2 separate regions of the Homo sapiens genome follow, and region 1 is linked to region 2. The links come from fine-mapping of genetic effects on gene expression. Tissue or cell type: whole blood. Region 2 holds a variant in brackets; the other region holds the start of a gene. All regions are shown on one strand. Distances are from middle to middle.

Evidence for each region. PIP is the estimated chance that this variant, and not a neighbour inherited with it, causes the effect.
Region 1: it holds the start of PKIG, and the variant in region 2 is fine-mapped to the expression of PKIG in whole blood (INTERVAL, PIP above 0.99).

What each region holds. Positions count from the first base shown.
Region 1 is chr20:44,579,086-44,587,189 of GRCh38, reverse strand. PKIG (cAMP-dependent protein kinase inhibitor gamma) reads right to left here and starts at 4,611. Exons shown (of 4, transcript NM_001281445.2): 1 at 4,459-4,611. RefSeq lists an enhancer at 7,531-7,670.
Region 2 is chr20:44,489,282-44,497,369 of GRCh38, reverse strand. TTPAL (alpha tocopherol transfer protein like) reads right to left here. Exons shown (of 5, transcript NM_001039199.3): 5 at 2,767-8,088. The coding sequence ends at 7,829. It also overlaps a transcript of SERINC3 not described here. Among named protein-coding and RNA genes, the nearest start is that of TTPAL, 17 kb to the right of the region's middle. RefSeq lists enhancers at 1-1,182, 7,266-7,375. The variant A/G (reference allele first, on the strand shown) is at 4,011.

The DNA.
Region 1 (8,104 bases), 90 kb before region 2:
TGTCTATCTTCCCTTGTTGCACAGAGAATTCCACAAGACCAGAGGCAGTGTCTTTACCCTGGTCCTCTAGTTCAGTGCTTAGTACTAACAGGTCCTCAATGTACATTTATGGAATGTTAAAGACTACACTGATAAAGTACTAAAACAGTAACTGACCTAGGTTCCTGGGACATAGTAAGAATACACCAAATACTTTCTTCGGTGCCATGAAGGGCCATTATTCAGTTCTGAAGAGTCAAGCTAAAGCCTGTAATTTCTTGAAACATTAAAGAGACTTCTTTTTGGAAATGCAGCTTCCTCCAGTAAGAGCGGATACATTATGTGTTCTAATCTGCAATTCATAATCAGTCAGCATAGGAGCCCACGGCAACTTCCAAAGAAACCACTCTTTGAAGGAGCAGTACTCCAAGTTTTCCTAAGACATTTCTGAAGGATTTCCAGGAGGTAGTGAGCTCAGCCTAGGGTCATGATTAATAACCTGTTTCCCAGAACTTTAGATTTTCCACCTCAGTCTCCACTTAGGAATTGCTTCTGGCCCCTCGTGAAAGCATTTGGCAGAGTTAATTGGGCCAGTTCAGCTTCTTGTCTGTCACAGCCAGCACCTGTTACCAGCTTCTTCCTTAAGTGGCTGGGCTAGGGTCCTCTGGTCCCAAGAGAATAGCACCCACTTCTGCTTTTGGCCTCAGCACTGGCTGGCTGATTTGAGGTTCAGCATCACTTGACTGGGTGACAGGAAATAATGCTGAGGCTTGGTTTGAAGAGCCAACATGGCAGCTCCAGGGTTCATCACAGGGGTTTCAAAATGATGAGTTCAAAGATAACTTCTGGTTCCTCATGCAAATGCCATCCTATGTCTGAGGGGGCAGATGCCTGTGTACATTGGCTGACATTCTCTTTCTGGAAATTGAGAGCAGCTAATCCTAAGCATGTATTTTTGTACTAACTAAGTGCTTTATGAGCCCTATCTCATTTCATCCGCATGGCACCCCTTTGAGGTCAGTATGACTGTGACCCCCCACTTGACAGAAAGAGAAGTAGGTTCTATAAAGTGAGGTGATCAGTCCAGGATCTCCCAGCTAGGAGGCGGTGAAAGCAGAGCTCTTACCTGCTATCCCCTTCCAATTTCTCACTGAACTCGAGAGCTCTCACCTGCTGTCCCTTTCCAATTTCTCACTGAACTCAAGAGCTCTCACCTGCTATCTCTTTCCAATTTGTCACTGAACTCTAGAGCTCTTACCTGCTATTCCTTTCCAATTTCTCACTGAACTCGAGAGCTCTTACCTGCTACCCCTTTCCAATTTCTCACTGCCCTCTAGATTGTCTAAATCGAAAGAAACGGTAGACACCAACCAGATGCAGGGCTGCAAATTCCCACAGGGGCCAGGGGCCAGGCAGGAGACTAGAGGGCACAGGGGAATGCGCAAATGGTAATGAACTGGAGAACACACCTGCCTAAAGGCATTCAAATTAAAAACAAAACACCACTCTGACTTCTGACTAGAGTTCACTTGTCATCATTTAACAGATGGAGCAACTGAGATCCAGGGAGGTGATATGAAAAAGGCACTGCAGTATGGTGAAATATTCAAGGGCTTCGGGGACAACCAGTTCTCATTGGGAACTCAAGCTCTAGCCCCTGCCAGCTGTGAGACTCTGGGCAATCCACTGCACCTCTCTGTGCCTTTCTTAGGTGTAAAATGGAGATGATCTCTGCCTCACATCATTGCTGTGAAGATTAAGAGAAGTCAGCATATGCAAGATGCCCAGCCCTGTGTGTGACATTTATTTCAGGAAGATACCAAAGCCAAATGAGATCTCTGGACACATCTTTTCCACAACCTACCTCCACTCCCAAGATGCCCTAAACTCACTGCCGGGAGTGACTGAGGTGGGAGAGATCAGCAAACACACACTGATAACAGGAGCAACTTTGACACACAAAACAAGAACTGAAAGCCACCCTCATCTGGTACATGAAGGCCTACCTAGTTGAGGAGTGTGAGGCATTCCACATTTCCACTCTCCACTTCCTGGCAGGGACCACAAAGTCTAGGTACCTTCCTTCCAGAACATCACCTCCTCACCACCACCTTAGGAAAAAGGATGCCTTTTTTGATTACCCCAAATCTCAAGATCCCAGCGGGGCTGGGATGAAGCAGAGGATGCCCTGGCCTTCCCACTGCCCATGCCCATGGGTGGGTCCATGGCAGCAACAGTCCACCTTCATGGGATGAAATGCTGGGGAAGACTGCAGCTTTAGAAGTGCCAAGAGACCCCATCTCTACTAAAAATACAAAAATTAGCTGGGCGTGGTGGCAGGCGCCTGTAATCCCAGCTATTCGAGGGGCTGAGGCAGGAGAATCCCTTGAACAAAAACGGGAGGTGGAAGCTGCAGTGAGCCAAGACTGCACCATTGCACTCCAGCCTGGGAGACAGAGTGAGACTCCGTCTCAAAAAAAAAAAAAAAGAAGTGCCAAGGGCCTTTGAGAACCCTCTTATTAACTAGGACCTTAATTCAAACAAATAGTTTCTAAATACCACAACTTCCTGAGGATTAGGGTCTCTGATGCCCTTAAAGAAAACAAAACAAACAAACAAAAACAAAACAAAACAAAGCAAAAACCTTAATTTGTCAAGACCCGGCACCTTGGAAACTCAAAATTCAAGATCTGACGTCTTTTGCTTTTTTTTTTTTTTTTTTGCACTCTGGCTGTGGCTATCCTTCCCTTGTGGCAGGAGAGGGTGGCTCTATGTTAAATGATGAAAGAGGGGCAAATAGAGGGATTTTCCCCCTTCTTCTCCCTCTTTCTTGCCAAATGAGGAACTAGGATGGCGGGCTTTAAGTTTAAATTAAGTTGTGTCTCCTTTGTACCTATGTGCCAGGCTTTCTACTAGGCAGTGGGGCATAGTGATGGGCTAGACAGACACGCAGAGAAGGTGCAGATGGTCTAGTGGAGACATGGGGAATTGAAGTTATGCCAGTAATTATGTAAATACAGTTTAGTTCAGGATAATATGAAAACATATAAGTAGATGGTTGTCCTCAGTCAATGGGGTTAGGGAATAATACTGACCATCTAGTGCTCTGTAAAGGGTTGAGCATAACATAGGGCCTAGTGCTTAAGAGATACTCAATAATGCCAATTCCTTCTTTCCTCTCTCCCCAAGTGTATGTGCTAGTGTATGCGTGTGCACATACAGTTACCACTGAGACTTTTTCTTTCTCTTTCTTCAAGAACACCTAATCTGAAAAAGACCCATAAAAACTCAGAAGTAACTTAATGTTGCCTGTTTTATGTCTTCTTTTAACTGTCCTACAGGCACCCGTTTTTAGCTACTCTGGGAAACTGAAAACCTAGGGTCCTTTGCTCCTAAAGCCATAAGGGCCCAATACAAAGGGAAAAGAAATATGGACAGTTCATTTCATACTGAATTTGGAAATACAGAGATCATCTAGTTTTGTCCCCTCATTAGGTACAAATAAAGAAACAAGACCCAGAGAGTGTGAAACACTTGCCCAAGGTGACAGTTTCCTTGGGTGACCCTTCTAATATATGGTAGCTTTTTGTTGAAGCTGAAATCTTCCCGTTAGCTGTAACTTTTCAAATATACTTAACCTGCTAAGAGGGGACACCTCCCCTGTTAGCACACTGCAAGCCATCTCAAGCCACCTAGGAATCCTCCTCAGTTCAGGGACCCACCAAGTAAGGGACCTGGGTACAGCAAGGGCCCCCTCTTTCCCTCTCTACAGAGTAGCTTGCTTAGTTTCAAACCCTGAAAACAGATACCAACAAATAAAATGCCTAAAGGCTTACATGTCCTGTTTATATTCCAGGCATAAACAGCAAATTTTTAAAAGGAAGCAATAAAAAGATCGCAAACCCAAGGTTAAAGATTTCCAACCCCTTTCCATCTTGGAGTTTTCCACACAGCTGCTGCAGCACTGGGTTTATATGTGGTAAATTCATGGAGTCTGACCATATCTGTAACTGAAATTTAACACAACAACCATGTTCCTGAGGGGGAAGATAATAGGGAATTTTCACTACTTTCGGAGACTTTTCTTTCTAGAATGTTTAAAAATTATTATACCACCTTTGTAATCAGAAAAAAAGAAAGGGTTTTACAAACACGAATTTCTTAGGGAAGATTTATTTCTTCACCTATATTTGGAGCAAGGAGCTGCTTTTAAAGCTCTGAATACTCTGTCAAAGTTCTTTGAGTAAAAATGAAACAGCATCTGAATGGAGCCCATTTGTGAGACTGGAGGCTCCGACTAGCCTTAGGCAGTTTCAGACAAGGCCATAATTTTCAGAGCAAGCTCACATATATCATTATATAAAAATAGACATTTTGTGGCCAACAGGCTGGAAAGCAAGCTCTCCAGAGAGCTCTGCCTCCAAGCTCTGCTTCTCCCTGGGGGTGTTGGGCAGGGGAGGAGAGTAAAGTTCTACTTACAAGACCAAAGTTTCCTCAAAATCCAGTGGTCCTCAGTCAGAAGCGGAGGCAGAATTTAAGAAACCAGGATTCAAGGTTAGCAGTCCAGACCTGTGGTGCGGGCAGGATTCTCACTTTACCCTCCTCTCTGTCTCTTCCCCGTGTCTCCTAAATGAAAAGCACTTTGAGGTTTTAGTGGGTGTTTCCCATGTCTCGGGCCAAGTAAGTCCCCATTTGTTGTAATCCAATGCTCAGCCTGATGATGTCAACCACACAACTCACTCACTCAGTTTCCACCTCTCTGTCCACAGGAGAGATCCATTTCCTTTGGACAATGAGCCAGGGGGCTGTAACTGCATCCCAGGCCACCACGCTTGCCTAATATCCTTCCTTCAATTTTCAACCCTGCAGCTTTAGTGACAAAAGGCTTCCTATCCACTCACTGAGCCAGGGTTCCTGGGTAAATTCCTTTGCTTCTTAGTGGGTTGTCTGCTTTCCTGTGTGTTTAATTCCTTTCTTTGGTATATAATATACTAGTTAGGGTGGAGATCTTCACCCCACCCCACACCCATCTCTTTCTTCCTGCCCAATTTTCCAAGTTGTTTCATTTCTCCCAGGTCTCCTAGGTACATGCTGGGCACAGTACATGAGTTTGTCCTTCATGTAGGGGAGGTGATGTGTGCCCCCGGGGAAGGCTTGGAAACAGCACTGGTGTGTCCCCTGGGAAACTGGGTTCCAGTCTTGGTCAGGCCTTCAACTGAATGAATGACCTCAAGCAAGTCACATCCCTCTCTGGACCTCAGTTTCCCTATCAACAAAATGCTGGCTTTGGTGCTTTCCACTTCTGAGATTCAATGAGTAAAAATCAGTGACTGGGGAACTTATAAACAAATGCATTATAGAGCATTTTACTACAAGCTACCCAACTACATGCTTGAGGGAAGGAAGAACCCTGGAGAAGTCAGAGGCCACTGCCCAAGATGCCAGGCTCAGCTGGGCACCTTTAACCCCCTTTATGAAGGAGATGAACAGATTCTCTGGGAGTAAAACCAAAAGAATTCACTGAACAAGTCCTTAGGGACATGAAAAGCAGCAGCATAAACTACAAGATAAGACAAACAAGTAACAGGCTATAAGTGTCCTTAGGGACCAACATGGAACAGCAGTGGTTACGAGAGATCATTTCTTGCATTTGGAGAGTGCTTGATGGTAAAGACAAAGAACATCTCTCTACTTTCGTGTACAATGGGGAGCGAGTGACATGCATAGTGGTTAGGAACATCATTTGGGAGCCACAGATGTGGATCTGAGTCCTGTCTGACTTAATTTCTCTGAACTTCAGTTTTTTTAACTGTCAAGTGGGATACTAGTGCCTCTGTTTTAGGATTGTGAGAATTAAAAAACACATGTAAGGAAACTGAAAGTATTTGGTACATACTAAGTATTGAATAAATGTTTGCTCTCGTTGTACATAATCTCATTTGATTCTCATAACATCCTTAGGAGAATCAGATAAGTGCTATGAGGCTACATTATTAATCTCTCCTTCCTGGATAAGAAGACATATACAGAGAAGTTAGGTGACATGCCCAAGGTCACACAGCTCAAAACGAAAGGGACAGAATTAGAAATGAAGCCTCAACTCCTAACTAGGTCAGCACACATGCCACACACATGCCAATGCCAATGCCATTTCTCAAAGTGGTTGCCGCAGCCAGCCTGGGAAAGGAAACACTCAGGCCACTAGGTCAGAGAGGCTGCTTTCCTTGCTTTGCTACCCAAATCCTGTGTGGCCTGAAGCAAGACTGGGCTTCAACTAACTCCCTCAAAAGGAGCAGATCTGATCTGTTTCAATGCCACTTTGATGGTGATGGGAAGGTAGGACCGGAGCTTTACTGGGAAAGCGGCTCTCTATAGGTAAGGAAGAGGCTGTGGTAATTTGTGGTTTAACAAGAATTTTTATTAGTTCTCAGAAAACACAGATGCTTATCAGAAAACATCCAAGAAAACAGGCTATATTAGGAGGGAGTTTGTCAATCTGAAGGCTTTTCAACAATGTGACAATGTGACGTAGGACTGCTGTGGAATAAAAACCACACCAGCCTGGCCGGGCGCGGTGGCTCACACCTGTAATCCTAGCACTTTGGGAGGCCGAGGTGGGTGGATTGCCTGAGCTCAGGAGTTTGAGACCAGCTTGGGCAACACGGTGAAACTCCATCTCTACTAAAATACAAAAAAAATTAGTCAGGCGTGGTGGCGTGTTCCTGTAGTCCCAGCTACTTGGGAGGCTGAGACAGAAGAATTGCTTGAACCCAGGAGATGGAGGTTGCAGTGAGCCGAGATTGCACCACTGCACTCCAGCTTGGGCGACAGTGAGACTCTGTCTTTAAAAAAAAAACAAAAAACAAAAAACAAAACAAAACAAAAAAACACCAGCCTGGTAACCCACAGAGAGCAGCCGTTCACAGCTCAGAGAGATGTGGGCTTCCTTCTGGTCCCTAGACCTTCTTGCTGTGCTTTGGTTTCCCAGTGTAAAATGAGAAGAATAACAGCCTTACTCTCCAAGGTTCTTGTGTGGGTTATGTGCCTGGCACATACTATACATTGAAAAATATTTGAATACTTCTTGTCTAATTCTGACCATTTCATCATCCTTTGCCCTAATGGTGATGTGACAATGAAAGAAAGTCAGAGATTGGTCGGGAAGTCAAAAGGGTCCTGTATTTCTCCAGAATGTCACGATGAGTAATGAACAAAAGCCCACCCAGAGCTGTAAGGCCTGTTCTCAGCAGCAACACTCAGTTTGGAGGGACTGGAGGTCAGGGCTATTGTTTGGCTGAGCCTTTATTCCAGAAGACTGAGTAGGTGTCAGGAAATGAGGCTGGGCTCTTGAAGATGGGTGCTTTGAATCATGTTTTGTTACTTGAACAAAAATAATAGTAAGGAGCCCATTCATAAAAACAACATCATTTTCTTCAACAACATGTACTCTGTATCACTTCCCTTGTGAACGGAATAATTCTACGTCTGTGACAGAATCCCGGAAGACAGAACCATAGCAACACTGGCACATTCATTTCTTCTTATAACTGACAATACTGGACACACTTATGTGGGCTGGGGCCAAGCTGTGCACTGAGCACTCTATGAACACCACTTCATGTCATCCTCACAATAATCGGGTGCAGGAGACATTATTAATATTCACATCTTACAGCTGTAGCAACAGATGCATGGTGAGCCGACCAACCTGCTCAAAGGCTCACGGGAGCAAGGGGCAGAGCCTGCACTCTAACTAGGGACCATGTGGTGCCAGTCCTGAATCCACAACCCCCTTGCACTACCACCTCTTAAAGGGCTTCCCTTCAGGAAACTTGGCTGTTTTTCACAGACAGCAGCATCAGCTCCATTTGAGGATGAAGGAAACTTTGGCTGTTTAATTCCACCTTTTACCCCCAGTTTAGAAGGGGTCTCTCCTTCCTCTGAATTTCCTTAGTATGCTCTGTTTCTCTCTTAAGAAACATACCCTTTTCTCTGATGACACATATTTAGTTGGGGGCAGGTCTTTTTTCTCTGCCAGAATCCTAACTTTTTAAGGAAAAGATCTGTGTCTAATATAGCAGCATTTTGTACATATTATGAGATACTTATTAAAATAAGGAAATCC
Region 2 (8,088 bases):
GTCCTACCTTAAGAAGTAGTGAAGTCTGCCTCTTAGTAGGAAAACCAGTAGTCTAATCAAGACTCAAGTGAATTATACATGTGAATGCTGAATTATATACAAGCATGAGTAAGACAGCATTCTGAATAAGGCCAGGATCATCATTTAAAGCAGGGGAGTATTTTGAGTCATCAGATCTCAGGGTGGCCTTTCATTCCAGATGAGTACCTTTATGTTTCATCACTATGAAAGGGCTTGCCTAGCCTTGGGGAATGCGGGTTGGGGCCCTGGCTTTCAGATCAGGGACATGCTCTAGGAACTCATCAAAGGCAATAGCAGTGGCTGCCACTTTTACCTCGTTAAAGCCGGGAGAAAGCTTCTAGGTCCATGCTGGACTCCTTTATTTTCTAGGTTGGTCTTGCGGGTTATCTGGTTGGGAAGTAAAACTTTCTCTTGGTAATCAAAGAAACTGCCTGCCAAAGAGTAGCCATGGACCTGGTTCTCAGTATAGAGGTTTTGTTCTTTTTCTTTTTGGCTAGCCAAGTGAGGAATGGAGAAGGAACAAAGAAATCTGTAACTGGTTCTTTTTTCTTTTTTTAGACAGAGTTTTGCTCTGTTGCCCAGGCTGGAGTGCAGTGGTGCCATCTTGGCTCACTGCAACCTCCACCTCCCATGTTCAAGCAATTCTCCTGCCTCAGTCTCCTGAGTAGCTGGGACTATAGGTGCGCGCCACCACACCTGGCTAATTTTTGTGTTTTTAGTAGAGATGGGATTTCACCATGTTGGCCAGGCTGGTCCCGAACTCCTGGCCTCAGGTGATCCACCTGCCTCAGCCTCCCAAAGTGTTGGGATTACAGGCGGGAGCCACTGCACCTGGCTGTTTTTACACATTCAGGCTAAAGTGAGTATTCACATAATGAGTTGTGCATTTGATCTGTGCAGATTGATAACAGATAGTAGGCTTATGCTTATTAATGGAAGCTGCTGTTCATCTCTTTACTCCTGTTGTGTTGGTCTGTCCGTCCTGTTACCTAGGCACCCAACTCAGTGATGTCCTAATTACTGCTGGATGACTCAAGCCACACCATGCCTATGTTCTCAGGTGAAGAAGAATAATAGAAACCACATAGATGGGTAGGTGTACCAAGCATTAAACAGACAGTATCCACATGCCTGTAAGGTGGTGATTATTTCCCTCCCTCCTTCCTTTTACGTATCAGTTTGAGGCTTAGAGAAGTTCGTGACTTGCCTATGGTTACTCAGTAAGAGGTGAAACAGAGAAACCCAGGGCTTGGCTTAAGAGTTCTTTTTTCAATTAGACCTCAGTGTCTCTTGGGCCATAAGAATATAAGAGACAGGATTTATTAGAGACATGTAGGGGAGTCATCTGGCTCACTAATGACTCATCACCAACTCACCAGATCTACCATGGGAACCTAGTTTTTGTCTACTCTCAGGCACAGAGTGTTTGCTCCTCTACCCATCACTGACAAAGACAAGTTAGTAGTCACCTGAAGGCAAGTGACTCATGTCTTTTACTAGGTCAGCTATCCCTAGTGGCTGGCACCTACTCAGGAAAAAGCATGAATATTAGGTTAAAAACGTTTTCCCCAGAAGAGTGGTACCCTAAAGGGTCTTATTACTTACCCTTTAAATGCGATAATGTGAAACTTTATTGCCATTGAGTGTATGGGTACCAAACCAGTACTGTGTAAGGAGGGGGCAGGGGGCATCAAGAAAATACTGACTCATGGAAAAGGGCCTCATAAGACTGCTGTGAGAGAAAAGGATTTTAACAGTTAGCTTCATTTTTCTATATGTGAGAAACAGACTGAACTTAAGTTCCACAATTTCCTCAGGAAAGGCTGACCTGAAGGGGTGGTTATGCTGCAATATAAGTACTTAACCTGTTGCATCATCAAAAGTGTACCTCCTGTGTTAGAGTATTTCTCAACTGACTCATCAAGTCACCAGATCTACCATGGGGACCTAGTTTTTGTCTACTCTGGGGCACAGAGTACCAAATAAACAGGGGACATAGAAACAGCTTAGCAGGCCTGGGACCATAGTTGGGCAAGCCGTGCTCCAGTTACCCCTCAAGGAGTCTGGGCTTACTTCTGGAATAAAATGTTGTTACAACTTGGGTTTCAGAGAGGTTAACAACCACTGCTTGTATTTTCAAGAAGCCAGTTAAAAAGTCAATTTCTGGTTCTTTCTTACTCTATGAAAGAGTCCTGCCTTCTCTCTCTCTTCTATCTGGGGACTCGTTATTTGTCTCCAGCCATCAGGAGAAAACAGTGGGCTTGTCATACTTCCTGGGTTTGAATCCCATCCTTAGTATTTGGCTAGTTGTGTGTCACTGGGCAAGCTACATTTTGCCAACAGGAACAGTAATGCAGCTTCATTAAGGGTAGCTGAAGGTTAAAATACATTATTTATGAGTGTCCTTAACACATGTGTGCCCAGCCCACATGCGCACATTGAGGAAATCGCTGGCTATCACTGGAAAGACTCAAGGCCAGTCCAAGAAGTATAGCTGGGCCTCAAGAATGTAAAAATTTGCATATCACCTCTACTGCTCTGTGTAGCTAGCTGCATTCTCCTCTCCATACTGCAGCAGTCTAATTGTGTATGATCTTCAGAGGCAGCCAGCGCATCTACAGAATGCACTGTCCTATCACAGTGCCCCTCCCTCCCTCACCTGCAGAGGAGGTGGTCTACCCGGGCTGTGAATAATGAACCTTGGAACCTTTATCCAAACTGTCATCATCACAAAAGAACCCCATGCACATTTTTCAGAGATTTTTATTGTTTCAGACTGAGTCATGCATACTAAAATTATTACATATTTTCACCACTTTGACTTAGAAAATGCACTAGAAAAATAAACTTTGGTCAAAACAAACACTGAAGTACATGAATCCACCATGTATCCCTATACTCAAAGCCAAACTGAATTTCAGTTTGAAGCAAGGAATGTGACCAGTGGCTGAAACAGTGCCCCAAGCTGGTCAGAGAATTAGCTCACCTCCCACTCCATCAGAGGCTCTTGGTCAGAGAGGTTTCAAGTATTTCACTTGTAACAGGTTCCTACCTGATATGCCAAGAAGCCGAGGCATAGCTACAAGAATCCACAGCAGCAGCATCTCACTGCCTCACTAAACCTGCTGCCCAGTGAGATGAAAAGAAAAACAGCCCCATGAAACAGGAATTTCATCACTATCATCTCCATCCACAAATCACATTGATCCTTCGCATGAAGCAAGCTCCTGTTGACTGTGATGTTTGTTACTAGCATTTTAAGCAAACCATTTCTCTAAGTCAGGAGAGCAGAAGAATGAATTTATTTATTTGACACAGAATATTGCTTTGTCACCCAGGCGGGAGTGCAGTGGCATAGTCTTGGCTTACTGCAACCGCTGCCTCCCAGGTTCAAGCGATTCTCCTGCCTCAGCCTCCCAAGTAGTTGGGATTACAGGCACGCACCACCACACCCAGCTAATTTTTGTACTTTTTAGTAGAGATGGGGTTTCACCATGTTGGCCAGGCTGGTCTCAAACTCCTGACCTCAAATGATCCGCCCCCCCTTCAGCCTCCCAAAGTTCTAGGATTACAGGGCATGAACTACTGCACCTGGCCAAGAGCAGAAGAATTTAGATTTACAAAATTAACAGATCCCAATACAGAGAGGTGTTACCAGAACTGACATCTTTCCTGAACAGTAGGCATGTTTCTGTTCGGTATAGCCACACCTCTCATGGCCACAGGAGATACAGTGTATAGTATATAGTATATAATTGGTTTAGCTAACATTTTACTCCCTAAATTAAAGGAGGCTTCAAAGGAAAACCTTAATTAAATGTTGGCAACTTTAAAATGGTAAAACTTTTTAAAAGTATTATAATCGCCACAGCAATACTCTAGCTTTTGCTACCCAAATGAAAAAAATTCCCAGGATTGATCTGAGGGTCAAATACTATTTAAAGAAATTGCCCACCCAGGGAGAATTCTGAAAGGCTCAATATAAAGGA[A/G]TTCAGAGAAAAGCCTCTTATTGTCTTATTTCGGGAAAAATGGTGTTTTGTAACCTGATTTTTCAATTTTTATTTTTGAGATGGAGTTTCACTCGTCACCCAGGCTGGAGTGCAATGGCGCGATGTCGGCTCACTGCAACCTCCGCCACCTGGGTTTAAGTGATTCTCCTGCTTCAGCTTCCCAAGTAGCTGGGATTACAGGCACCCACCACCATGCCCAGCCAATTTTTTGTATTTTTAGTAGAGACGGGGTTTCACCATGTTGGCCAGGCTGGTCTCAAACTCCGGACTTCAGGTGATACACCCACCTCAGCCGCTCAAAGTGTTGGGATTACAGGTGTGAGCCACCGCTCCCGGCCTTGTAACCTGACTTACAGACCTCCTAAGATAAGTGACTCCTTGTGAAACCAGGATGAAATATGAAAGATCGAAAGCTACTTTTGCCTTAATTTTTGCAGCAGCAATAGAATAAAAAAGAAAATGCAAGGAAAAAAATTAAAAAATAAAGCGACCTTTGCCAAGAGCAAGTTAGAAATTCAAGACATGAAGCCAGGGTGGCACTTTTGGCTGTTTTTGTAGATTTCATCCAGTCTCTCCCCCATGAAGGCAGAACAGGGGAAGAGGCACAGTTTTCCAGAATTCCATGTTGGGATATGGGGGAAGAAGAGGAAGAAAATTCCCATATTCTGAAATGTATAGATTTGGAAGCTTTTAGGTACCAATTCATTCAGACCTAAATTTACTAAATAAGCCAATTGAGGGGGAAAAAAAAGGAAAAAAACTTCTAAAAAGAGAGAGTACAGTGTCTGTGGCAGTGAAGCCAACTAGATACCAGGAATAAAGTTTGGAGTATAGATCTCTATCATGGAATCACTCAGGGATGTTAAGCCAGCTCATCAAAGGCCACGTAGTAAGGTAAAGGTGGAGCCCGCGTCTCCTAATTTACTGTCCCATTTCCTTCCGACACCACACTATCTTGAATTTAGGGAAAAGTTAATTTCCAAGTGTTTGTGCAATGGGCCAGAACTTCTCCCTGAAGGAACATACTCCCAGTTCTTGAGGTTCATGGGTTTGCCTCACCAGTGCGCTCCCCAGTGCTGAGTAAGGCTCACTGTGCTCCCTGGCTGGTCATTCCCCACCCTGCTGAGACAGCCTGACACAAACATCCTGGTGAAGCCACAAGGAGACCACCTTGATTTTCACGCAGGGAGGTCTTGGTTTCACAGCTTGGTTCAAGTTTCCTGAGGTGTCAAAACTATCTGATACCTCTTCGGAGCCAAAACAAAGCAAGCAGCTCCCGGAGGCAGATAAACTTAGGCTCCAACTCCTTCTAGAAGCTGAGTGAAACCACTCCTTCCTTGTCCAACTGGAAAAACCTAAGAAATAGGCCTCTCCAGGTCCCTTCTGGTCTTTGAGATAATTCTCTAGGAGAGCTGTGGCCATGCCTGCATTAAAACAAATGCGACTGGCCAGGAATGCAGTGTAGAATTGAAACATCAGGGCTGAGTGATTCATTCCTCTTTACCCAGTTTTTGTTTTGTTTTGTTTATCTGTCTTCCCTCTTGGGGAAGCCTCCACCCAGTTCTCCCATCCAGGCCAGTGGGTTCTGAACCCCCTCCTTCCCTCCTTCAGCCATCCCACTTGCCCTGCTTGGGCCTTTTCAGCAGTGTGTGTCACATCATCATCAGATGGAACCAGAAGCAGCCAGGAGTGCTTTTTGGCACTTCCAGCTCAGCCAGTACCGTAGAGGATCCAGGGTTACTATCCATGGTGAAAAGAACTTTCTCTAGAATTGGTATTAATGAGGTTAAGTAACTTAATTTCCACCAACAACTTATCCAGACATTTAAAAAGGCAATAGAGATAAACAGCTTAGTAACAACAGATTGGCCTTCAAATTTCAGAGTATTGTTTTCTCCCTAACTGAGCTGTCTGCTTGACTGGTTAGTCTAATAAATGCACGGAGAAGGTGCACACACAACACAGTACTTTTCACTATTTAACACCATGATCATGTGGAATACATTAGAAAGGAAATAGGTCAAAAACCATCATGTGAACCGTCTAATTTGATGTTTGGGCTAAGGCTAAAATCTTCACAGGGAGGTTCTAAAGTGCTGAAATGCAGAACATTCAGGCTGACTGGTTCACCCACACCAGAGAGAGAAACTCAAGTGGGGCTGGGAGGGCAGGGGGGCCCAGAAGTGACCCAGGAATAACCTGCCCTTGTGTTCATTTCCAGAGACCAAAAAAAAAAAAATTTTTTTTTTTTTTTTTTTTTTTTGAGGCAGAGTCTTGCTCTGTCGCCCAGGCTGGAGTGCAGTGGTGCGATCTTGGCTCACTGCCACTTCTGCCTCCTGGGTTCACGTGATTCTTCTGCCTCAGCCTCCCGAGTAGCTGGGACTACAGGAGCCCGCCACCACGCCCAGCTAATTTTTGTATTTTTAGTAGAGATGGGGTTTCACCATCTTGGCCAGGCGGGTCTCGAACTCCTGACCTTGTGATCCGCACACCTTGGCCTCCCAAAGTGCTGGGATTACAGGCATGAACCACCACGCCCAGCTCAGAGACCAAAATTAAAGAATCTCAAGTAATTAACTACTGTAGCCAGGTTTACAATATAGTACCAGAGTCTCAGGGATGGAAGGAATTCATCATACAAGATCCTGGTCACCTTAACCTGGCCTCACAAAAGCCATCTTTTCAAAATTGAACCATCACTATAAAAAGAAAATTGGTGTCAGTGAGTCCCAGGAATACACATAATAGTTTCTTTAAAGGCAGGGCTAATTGGTGACACATCTCTCTTGGAAAGACACATGTACCACAAACAAAAACAGGATCCAACCACTTGTATCTAGATAGTTATCTTTCTAGGCAGAAAATCTAACATTCAGTAACTAAACCAAATCCCAGAGCCTCAGCAGCCAAAATGGCCCTAGCTGACATTTCATCCAGCCTCATTTTATAGAGGAGAAAGTAGAGGCCCATATCTTGTCCATAGTTGTACACCTGGGATCCAGGCCAGAATTCTTATAGCTACACGGGCCTGGGATCCAGCATTTTAGGTTGAGTAAAATCATTTCCTGCTAGGTCCCTGATTCTATTGAGAACCAGGGCTAAGGCTTTATGGATTTGGGAAAACTTAAGTTTCTATTGCAAACTTCAACCAGTGGGTCCCAGAGGTGCTTTGAAGTCTCCGGCTTCCACATTTGACCACAAAGTGCTGCTTATGTCCTGATGCTTACATGATTCAGTTAAGGTGCTTTCCAAACCCGGTGACAACAGCTGGGGCCTTCATCTCCAGTAAGTTTCCTGATGAGCAGCAGAGGTCTATACTTAGGGTTCCTGTGAAAAACACAAACTCCCAGTCTCACATTTGGTCACACTGAAGGTTTGGCCAAATTATTTCATACAAGTAGTTCTCACTGGCCAAACAGGTGGTTTTTCTCCTGGAAAAGTGGGATCAAAGTGACTTTGGTCCTGATTGTTCTTGCTTCCAAGATGTGTAAGAACCAGATCACCACCCCCCAACCAAAAAGCAAAACAAAATAGATATAGCCTCCAGATTAATAGTTGCAGACTGGGATTCCAAATGTTTAAGAATCAGTGGGGACATTTTCCATGTCTTCCATGGAGTAATTAAAGTAACCAAAGGCTTACCCCAAAATGGGCTCATGCTCATATCTCAGGCTGTTCCTCCATCCTGCAGTTTAATTACAAGGAGCAAGACTGAATCCATGGACCCTTAAATTCTCCTTGTGCCTCTCCAAAGAAAAGAAGGAAAAGAATTAAAGATGGTGACCCTGGGGGACGGGCTAGTAGCAGGAGTACAGCTGTGACTTCACAGCTCGCAAGGAGTCGTCACACTGTGCATCTGAGGTCAGGCCCTCGGGCAGCAGCGTCTGGCCCAGGATGCTGTCACAGGCAGGAACAGGTTGGCAGAACTCTTTCACAAAATCGTCTTCTGAAGCCAGCAGTACCGCGTTCCAGGTGGCAGTGTCCAGCTCCCCAGCCGTGCCCCCATACTCCTTGGGGAGGATGCTTCTTGGAAGGTTTGTGTGGAGAGAGTTCAAGT